Linked DNA regions of Homo sapiens: regions 1 and 2 are each linked to region 3. Evidence: fine-mapped expression QTL. A gene starts in region 3. Each other region holds a variant in brackets. All regions are shown on one strand. Distances are from middle to middle.

Region 1 (2,767 bases), 22 kb before region 3:
TATGTAAAGTACTGTGAAAAGTAAAGAATATAATGAATAAAACCTGATCTCTGCTATTAAGGAGATCAATCTATAAGGAGAGACAGACAAGTAATAGTTATAAATACAGCATAAGTAGAGTAACAAAAAAAATAGAGTTAACACTCTTGACATCAAATACAATTTGCCTTTAATTCCCATCAGTCTTTCCTACAATTTAACAAAAACTTATCTATGTTTCTTAATAACAATTAAAAGTATACATAATTAAGAATCAAACTGGGCACAGTAGCTCACAGCTGTAATCACGGCATTTGGGAAGCTGAGGTGGGAGGATCACTTGAGCCCAGGAGTTCAGGACCAGCCTGGGCAACACAGGGAGATCCCGTCTCTCAAAAAACAAAAACAAAAACAAAAAAAAAATTAGCAGGGTGTGGTGGTGCACAGCTGCAGTCCTAGCTACTTGATAGGCTGAGGTGAAAGGATCACTTGAGCCCAGGAGTTCGGGGCTACTGTGAGCTATGATACTGCCATTGTAATCTAGCCTGGGCAACAGAGCAAGCCCCTGTCTCTTAAAAGAAAAAAAAAAAAGAAAGGCCAGGCGCGGTGGCTCATGCCTGTAATCCCTGCACTTTGGGAGGCCAAGGCAGGCAGATCGCGTAAGGCCAGGAGTTTGAGACCAGCCTAGCTAACACAGTGAAACCCTGTCTCTGCTAAAAAGTACAAAAATTAGCTGGACATGGTGGCACACGCCTGTAATCCCAGCTACTCTGGAGGCTGAGGCATGAGAATTGCTTGAACCTGGGAGGCAGAGGTTGCTGTGAGCCAAGACTGTGCCACTGCACTCCAACCTGGGCTAACAGAGCAAGACTCTATCTTAAGAAAAAAAAAAAGAAAAGAAAAAGGATCATCATACAAATAGGAGTAGGGCAGCAACAGTGGTTTTGTGTATGGGACACTTCTGTAATGATTAATTTTTTAAATTAATATATGTTACTTTTGTCACTTTAAAAAATGCTTAAGACTAGGGCTGGGCATGCTGGCTTACACCTGTAATCCTAGCGCTTTGGGAGATTGAGGTCAGAGGACTGCTTGAGCCCAGGAGTTCAAGACCAGCCTGGGAATGTGGCAAGACTCCATCTCTACAAAACATCAAAAAATTAGCCAGGTGTGGTGGCACACTC[C/T]CGTAGCCCCAGCTACTTGGGAGGCTGCGGTGGGAGGATCATTTGAGAGCCCAGGAGGTTTGTGCCACTGCAATCCAGCCTGGGCAACAGTGTGAGACCCTGTCTCAAAAACAATAATAATAAAAATGCTTAAGATTAGCAACTTCCCTTATAAAATTGTTACAAATTTTATATTTCTTTATAAAATTACTTTATAAAGAATAAGCAAAATGGGAAATATGCTACATGTTACTGAAATAAGCAAGAAATGAAGTTGTATGCATTAACTGCAAAAAATGCAAAGAGAAACGATTTAGGAGAAGAGGAAAACACCTAAATGTCAACAGTGGTTTTACCGGCAAGGGGAAATTATGAGAAGGCTTTTCCCCTCTATTTCCTATAAAGAAATTACATTAGTTTCATGATGAAATATACCTATTGTTTCTTTAAATTAACAATCCAGGCCAGGCACAGTGGCTCACACCTATAATCACAACACTTTGGGAGGCCAAGGTGGACAGATCACCTGAGCTATGAAGTTTGAGACCAGCCTAAGCAACATGGCAAAACCCCATCTCTACAAAAATTAGAAAAATTAGCCAGGTGTGGTGGCATGTGCCTGTAATCCTAGCTACTTGGGAGGCTAAGGCAGGAGAATCACTTGAGCCTGGGAGGCAGAAGTTGCAGTGAGCCGAGATCATGCCATTGCACTCCAGCCTGGGCAACAGTGTGAGACCCTGTCTCAAAAAAAAAAAAAAAAAGAATCCTGTAGGAAAGGTATGAATATGAGCTCATATAATGATAAATCCTTCTTCATTAAAAACTGTACGTCAACTCTACTAAATTTCAGAGGACAGTGAATATTAGTTTCAACAAATATTCTATTTTACCAATAGAATCAAGAAAATAAAATGTCTAAAATTTTATATAAATTTTTTTATAGCCAACTATGAATCCCTTGTGATTTGATATCATAGTTCACAACAAAACATCTTTACTTACTCTGTAAGGCAGTACCACACAGTGATTATAACATGGGTTTTGAAGTATGCTTTCCCAGGTTTGCTCAAAGCTCAGCTCTGCCACTAAAAATCCATGTGGCCTTGAACAATTTAATGAATCTCTCTGCCTCACTTTACTCATATTTATAATGGGAATAATAATAAATAGCCACCTACAATAGTTATGCTGAGTAGACAGTTTAGATAAATTGCTAAATTAGCTCAGTGCCTGTCACACAGGAAACAGTGATAGCAATTATGATTACTATTAAGTTTCCTATTAAAATTTAACCCAAAATTGGCTAAAATAAAAATCAAAATATCAATTTCCCTTTCTGATAGAATACTCACCTTTGCTATTTGTTCAGCAAAATGTATCGCGGTTTGCGTATGGAGTGTAACTGGTCCTGTTTTTATTCTGGAAACTCCATTGGCTAATGCCATGAAAACAATCAGCTATTTAAAAAAGAACAAAGAAAAACCTCACACATTTATTAATATTTGGCATTATAATTCCACTGCTGCCCATAATAAAAATACTACTAGAAATAAAAATTGCTAAAACAGAATTTCTATTTCTTTAGGTTTCCAGACATACTCAGAAGATGACAGAAAACCTATGTT
Region 2 (2,767 bases), 24 kb after region 3:
TAGTTCAATACGAGTTGTGTTGTTGTTGAAGGTAAGACCTTCTAGTAGTTTAATTTTCTTTCAAATGTTTTACAAATATGAACAATTTTATTTAAATTAAGGTGAATCTATATACTTCAAAACTTTCCTTTATTGTCCCTAAGTTTTATGTCTGATGAAACAGAGGTTGATTCACTCCTTTGATTTTATTGTTGACCAAGAGTCAGGATTATGGGAGCTGAAGGAGAAAGCAAGGACAAACAAAATGGAAATGTTTGGGAAAGAGAATTCTTTTATTGTCTTCTGGTTTTAAGTTATCAATTTTAATTATTTTAGTTAGGCTTTATATTTCCTGAATATTAATGTTAGTAAAAATAAAATGTTGATATTATAAAGACTAGTCGATTTAGGGTGATCTCTAAAGTTAAGATGAATGATTTAAGATTATTTATGTTTTAGGAAAGGGATCTTCAGTTTTTCTTTGCCTTCAGAAATCAGTAATAGTTTGAAATTTAAAGTAAAAAAATAAGAATTTAAATGTATTGTTCTTGTCAGTAAACCAAACTTTTACTTTTATATTTGCTATCAGAAAAAAACAAAAATTCTAGTTTATAAATATGTATTAAAACATGACTGTACTATATGATGTTTATTATAACATAGCCTTTAAAAGTTAAGAGCTAATCACCACTAATGTACATGATTTTTTTTTTTAAGTAAAAGTGACTCTGTTACATACATGAAAAAGTTTCACTTATCAGTATTCTTATACTAAGAAGGTTAGAAATTTCTGCAGAGAAGTAAGCTCAGGGCTTTAAAATTAAATAAGTAAATAAATTCTGTAGTTTATGTTTACAGTATGATGTAGTTAAGTATTAATAGCATTGAAATTTTTTTTTTTTTGAGATGGAGTCTTGCTCTGTCACCAGGCTGGAGTGCAGTGGCTCGATCCCGGCTCACTGCAACCTCTGCCTCCCGCATTCAAGCGATTCTCCTGCCTCAGCCTCCCAAGTAGCTGGGACTACAGGCGCATGCCACCAAGCCCAGCTAATTCTTTTGTATTGTTAGTAGAGACAGGGTTTCACCATATCGGCCAGGCTGGTCTCTTTAACTCCCTACCTCGTGATCTGCCCACCTTGGCCTCCCAAAGTGCTGGGATTACAGGCGTGAGCCACCGCGCCT[G/A]GCCTAATGGCATTGAAATATTAACTTTCCAAATAAGATATTATGGCCTGGCATGGTGGCTCGCACCTGTAATTCTAGCACTTTGGGAGGCTGAGGTGGGAGGATTGCTTGAGCTCAGGACTTCAAGTCCAGCCTGGGCAACATACTGAGACCTTGTCTCTACAAATAATAAACAAAATTAATTGGGTGGGGTAGCATGCGCCTGTGGTCCCAGATACTTGGAAGGCTGAGGCAGGAGGACCCCTTGAGCCTAGAAGGTCAAGGCTTCAGTGAACTGTGATCGCACCACTGCACTCCAGCCTGGGCAACAGAGTGAGACCATGTCTCAAATACACACACACACACACACACACACACACACACACACACACACAATACCTTTCAGACACTTAGGTTTTGATATATAGAGTTGAATACATTTGGGCCTACTTATTTCTATAAGAGATTTTAAAATAATATTATACTAAGGTACTATGTAAAATAGTTAATTCTAAAGAGTCATCTATAAGTTACTATAAGTAAACTTTGGGGTATCATACTATACAAGTTTTTCATTGTTTTTAGATGCTAACTATTACTTTAGAATTCTTTAGTAGTTTTAGTTCAGGAAGTCCAATGACTTAAGCATACCTATAAGCTGATGTATTTATACAGAATACACTGTTAAAATGTCTTTACTTTCAGAAGGAATTTTGGGTAAGGATCATAAATGTAACAAATCTAAATCTAAGGATATAATATTTCTATTGTGACAATGGTTCTACTTTTAGAATGGAATTGAAATTCAATTTATACTTAGAGATAAGCCGGTATGGTTGTTTATAAATGCTTTTACTTTTTGTTTTCTCATCTGTAGATTTGTGTTCGCTATTTTCAAACATGTGGTAATGTTCATGTTTTGAAGCCAAATTATGTGTGTTTCTTTGGTTATCCTTCATTCAAGTATAGTCATCCACATCACTTCCTGAAAACAACTGCTGGTAAGTATGATTTCAAAATAACGTGTATAAAATAATGTTTTGTACCTCATTCAGTAATATTTTTTAGTAGTTGATTGAGACTTTTTAAACAAAAAAAAGTTGACTCTGTATTTCTAGCCGGGCCCTTCCCATCTCCCCACATTTTTCCAGTTCTCACTTTCTTTTTTCTCATCCCTCTCTTTTACATACTTTCCTTAACACTGGCACCCCTTTTTAAAAAAAATTTTTTTTTAGAGACAGGATCTCACTCAGTTGCCCAGATTGGAGTGCAGTGGTGTAATCACAGCTCACTATAACCTGAACTCCTGGGCTCAAGTGATCCTTCTGCCTCAGCTTCTCAAAGAGCTGGGATTACAGGCATTAACTTATCTCGCCCAGCACTTGTGTCTTTATAATATTGGGAATGGGTTGTGTTGGGCCATCTATTTATCATCTGGCTCATCTAAGTGCAATAGTCAGCATTGATATGACTTTCTCAGTCAAGGTAAATTGTTGACTTAATAGAGGTGTCTTTGTGTTGGCATACACATTGTGGTATTGTTTGTTGAAAGAAGCACTTAATCTGTCAAGTGAACATGGTGTGATGAAACCAGCCTGATTTAGTACTAAATAGAAAGTTCCCTGAC
Region 3 (2,767 bases):
TGGAGGGCTGCAAACTATGACAAAGGCAATTAACATTAACATATCAGTAATTGCCTTTTGGTAATTTCAAAACTGTAGACAAAAGACTGAGACCGCTGATTTATTAAAATGTAATAAATACAGAATACATACAAAGCAATCAGTGTGGCTTCAAACCTGGGTCCTCTTCTAGCAGGTGCATGTACCTGAAGCTCAACTAGTGGCATGCCCAGCTACCCAGACAGAAGAAATAAGGTCAAATGTCAAGGTGTTTCCCTCTCCACAACAGATAATTCTGGTCATAACAGCTCTCTGGAGGTATGAATGAAGGCTGGGATAACACATCTCAGGATTCTTTCCTGTTTTATGATTCTAAAACTGACAGCAGAACCAGAATGCACTGGTTATAAAACAGGGTTTCCTCTGGCGTCACAAGCATTTCTGCCCTATCTATCTTGCCAGCTCATACGTGCTGTTCGGATATTTGGAATGCCCGGTGAGGTGAGAAAACATTTTAAAAGCTAGCTCTTCAGCAAATGACACTATTTAGTCAAACAGAGAAAACTCGAGACCATTTCTAAACTCACCCCTCCAGGCTTTCAAGACTTTACAACCCAGGCCACCGCCCAGGCAGAGTGCCCCGCCCTGGATCGCCCATACCTGCGTCTGGGACCTTCTGGGTTCCACCACTCGGACTCCCGATGCCCCAGCCCGGCAGCCCGACCCCCCGATCCCCCAGCTTCACGGCCCAACTCCCCCTCCAGCCAGATTTACCTCAGGCCTGGCGTGCTCCGGCCGGCTCGGATCTTCTGCACCCGCAAGGGGAGGCCTAGGAGACAGCTCAAGGCCGTAGAGACTCTCAGGATCTGGCCGCCCTGCAAAGGTTGGGGTACAGGGAGAAGAGAAGTAAGCACACCGGTGGTGAGAGCTCCCCTCCTTAGTTAGGCTGCAGCCCCGGCCGCTTCGCTCTGTACTCACCCCTTCCATGATGCTGCCATCGACCTCCACCCGCGGCCCCGCCATGGGGGACACCCTGGGGCCCAGCCCGCAGCGACAAAGCCTCCGCCAGAGCGGGAGAAAGAAGAGACGTTGGCTCCCGCCCAGTAGTTCAGAAACCTTGGTTCATGCCTGGGGCGCAGGAGCCTGACGAGAAAGCGGAAGAAGCGGCGCCTCTCGGGACACTGGAGTCAGCAGAAACGAACCCCCGGGTTCGCCCAGTTCCGCAGTCAGTGCGCATGCGCGTAGCTCGGCTTAAAGGAGCCGCGCTGGGAACACTGCGGTCGGGGCGAGGAAGCTGCCGGGGAAGTGAGATGACGGTCGCGGGGGTGCCCAGGAGCCCTGAAAAACTTGTGCCCTGGGCACGGCAAAATCTGCAGGTTGCAGAAAGTCTCAACTGTAAGATAACTCCTCCAGTTATCCCGCAGGCTTGTGCTTTATCTCTGTTTTGTGGGTAAATATGTGTTTATATCTGTTTTCTCGAGGATCCTGGCATACCCCGAGGTGCCGACTTTTAGAGCTGAAGATGCAAGAAAGATTGGGATCCTGCGATGCACCGAACCTGTCTCTCGAAGTGTGTGCGCCCTGGTACATTGATACTCTTGGCCTTTGGTTCCTTGCGGTGTGCGTGTTTGTGTATGCGGAGTGTGTTATCTTTCTTTCTAGGGTGACACACCATTTATTTGAGAGGCGGGAAAGGCAGAATCACTAGTTTAATATTCTGAAAAGCCAAAGTTATGCCATTTTGCTTGAGAGTGAGTGCAAGCTCTTGACTCCCAGGAACAGTGCAGCTAACAATTCACCTCAGGCGAGGGCAGAAGCAATAGCCAGCTTCTTGGTTCTGCCTGTGGCTCAGTTCCTACATAATTGAGTACCAAATAATATGTAAACCTCTAGGGAAGCAAAAAAGAGTAATTCAGCTTCTACCCCCGAAGTTATTGGAGGTATAATGGAGAGACTGAGACGTAATCAATTACAATGTCATCCTCAATAATAATTAACATGTACTGTATTTAGAGTTTATTATGGGGACAATTACAATATATTAATAATATACTGTAACAATAACAGGCAACACTTATTGAGCACTTAGGTGTTGTGCACTGCATGCATTCATAACATGATAAAGTACTTACTGTTTTTACTGTTTTACAGCTTCCTGTGTTAAACAATTTGCTACAAGGTCACACAATTTTAACTAGAAGACTGAGATGTGAACCTGGGTGGTCTGATGTGAACACCACTGTCTGGTAATCCCAACGCTCTGCTGCTTTGCGACAGAGAATGTTTTAGGGAACACACAGACTATGTACTTAACCAAATCTGGAATTTGCCGTAAGATATTAATCAGAGAAGTAATGATACTTGCATTTTAAAATGAAGGCTTTGGCAGTAGGAGAAGGGTGAATAAGAGGCTTAAGAGCCTGAAGGGAGAAATGCCAATGATACAATTATCCAGCAAGAAATAATCAGAAGTTGAAGTAAGGCAATGATGGTAGGGATGGAATATAAAAAAGCTGTACCCCTATCTGACATCTTTATTGGGGGAACCCGCCCCCAATATTTCAACGTAGGTTCTTTCTATTTTCCATAAGTGTTGGCCAGCTGAGAAATAAAGAGAGACAGTATAAAGAGAGGAATTTTACAGCTGAGCCACCGGGGGTGACATCACATATCGGTAGGACCATGATGCCCGCCTGAGTCTCAGACCAGCAAGTTTTTATTAAGGGTTTCAAAAGGGGAGGGGGTGTAAGAACAGGGAGTAGGTACAAAAGTACAAAGATCACATGCT

Which allele goes with the higher level. Positions count from the first base shown, and alleles are read on the strand shown. Sizes are in standard deviations (SD) of each study's normalised expression. Not every link is listed here.
For the expression in adrenal gland of the gene that starts at base 1,204 in region 3, C is the high allele of the variant in region 1 and T is the other (moderate effect, 0.62 SD a copy in GTEx).

Evidence for each region. PIP is the estimated chance that this variant, and not a neighbour inherited with it, causes the effect. A credible set is the group of variants that fine-mapping cannot tell apart.
Region 1: its variant is the best candidate, but not a certain one, in a credible set for the expression of RTCA-AS1 in adrenal gland (GTEx, PIP 0.51).
Region 2: its variant is the best candidate, but not a certain one, in a credible set for the expression of RTCA-AS1 in atrial appendage (GTEx, PIP 0.67).

What each region holds. Positions count from the first base shown.
Region 1 is chr1:100,286,931-100,289,697 of GRCh38, reverse strand. RTCA (RNA 3'-terminal phosphate cyclase) reads right to left here. Exons shown (of 11, transcript NM_003729.4): 10 at 2,495-2,599. Among named protein-coding and RNA genes, the nearest start is that of MIR553, 7.1 kb to the right of the region's middle. The variant C/T (reference allele first, on the strand shown) is at 1,164.
Region 2 is chr1:100,240,135-100,242,901 of GRCh38, reverse strand. DBT (dihydrolipoamide branched chain transacylase E2) reads left to right here. Exons shown (of 11, transcript NM_001918.5): 2 at 2,018-2,141. Among named protein-coding and RNA genes, the nearest start is that of DBT, 8.3 kb to the left of the region's middle. The variant G/A (reference allele first, on the strand shown) is at 1,162.
Region 3 is chr1:100,264,611-100,267,377 of GRCh38, reverse strand. It overlaps RTCA-AS1 (RTCA antisense RNA 1), which reads left to right and starts at 1,204. Exons shown (of 3, transcript NR_110435.1): 1 at 1,204-1,374; 2 at 1,461-1,549; 3 at 2,131-2,636. It overlaps RTCA (RNA 3'-terminal phosphate cyclase), which reads right to left and starts at 1,162. Exons shown (of 11, transcript NM_003729.4): 1 at 958-1,162; 2 at 754-854. The coding sequence starts at 1,002. RefSeq lists enhancers at 994-1,353, 922-1,471.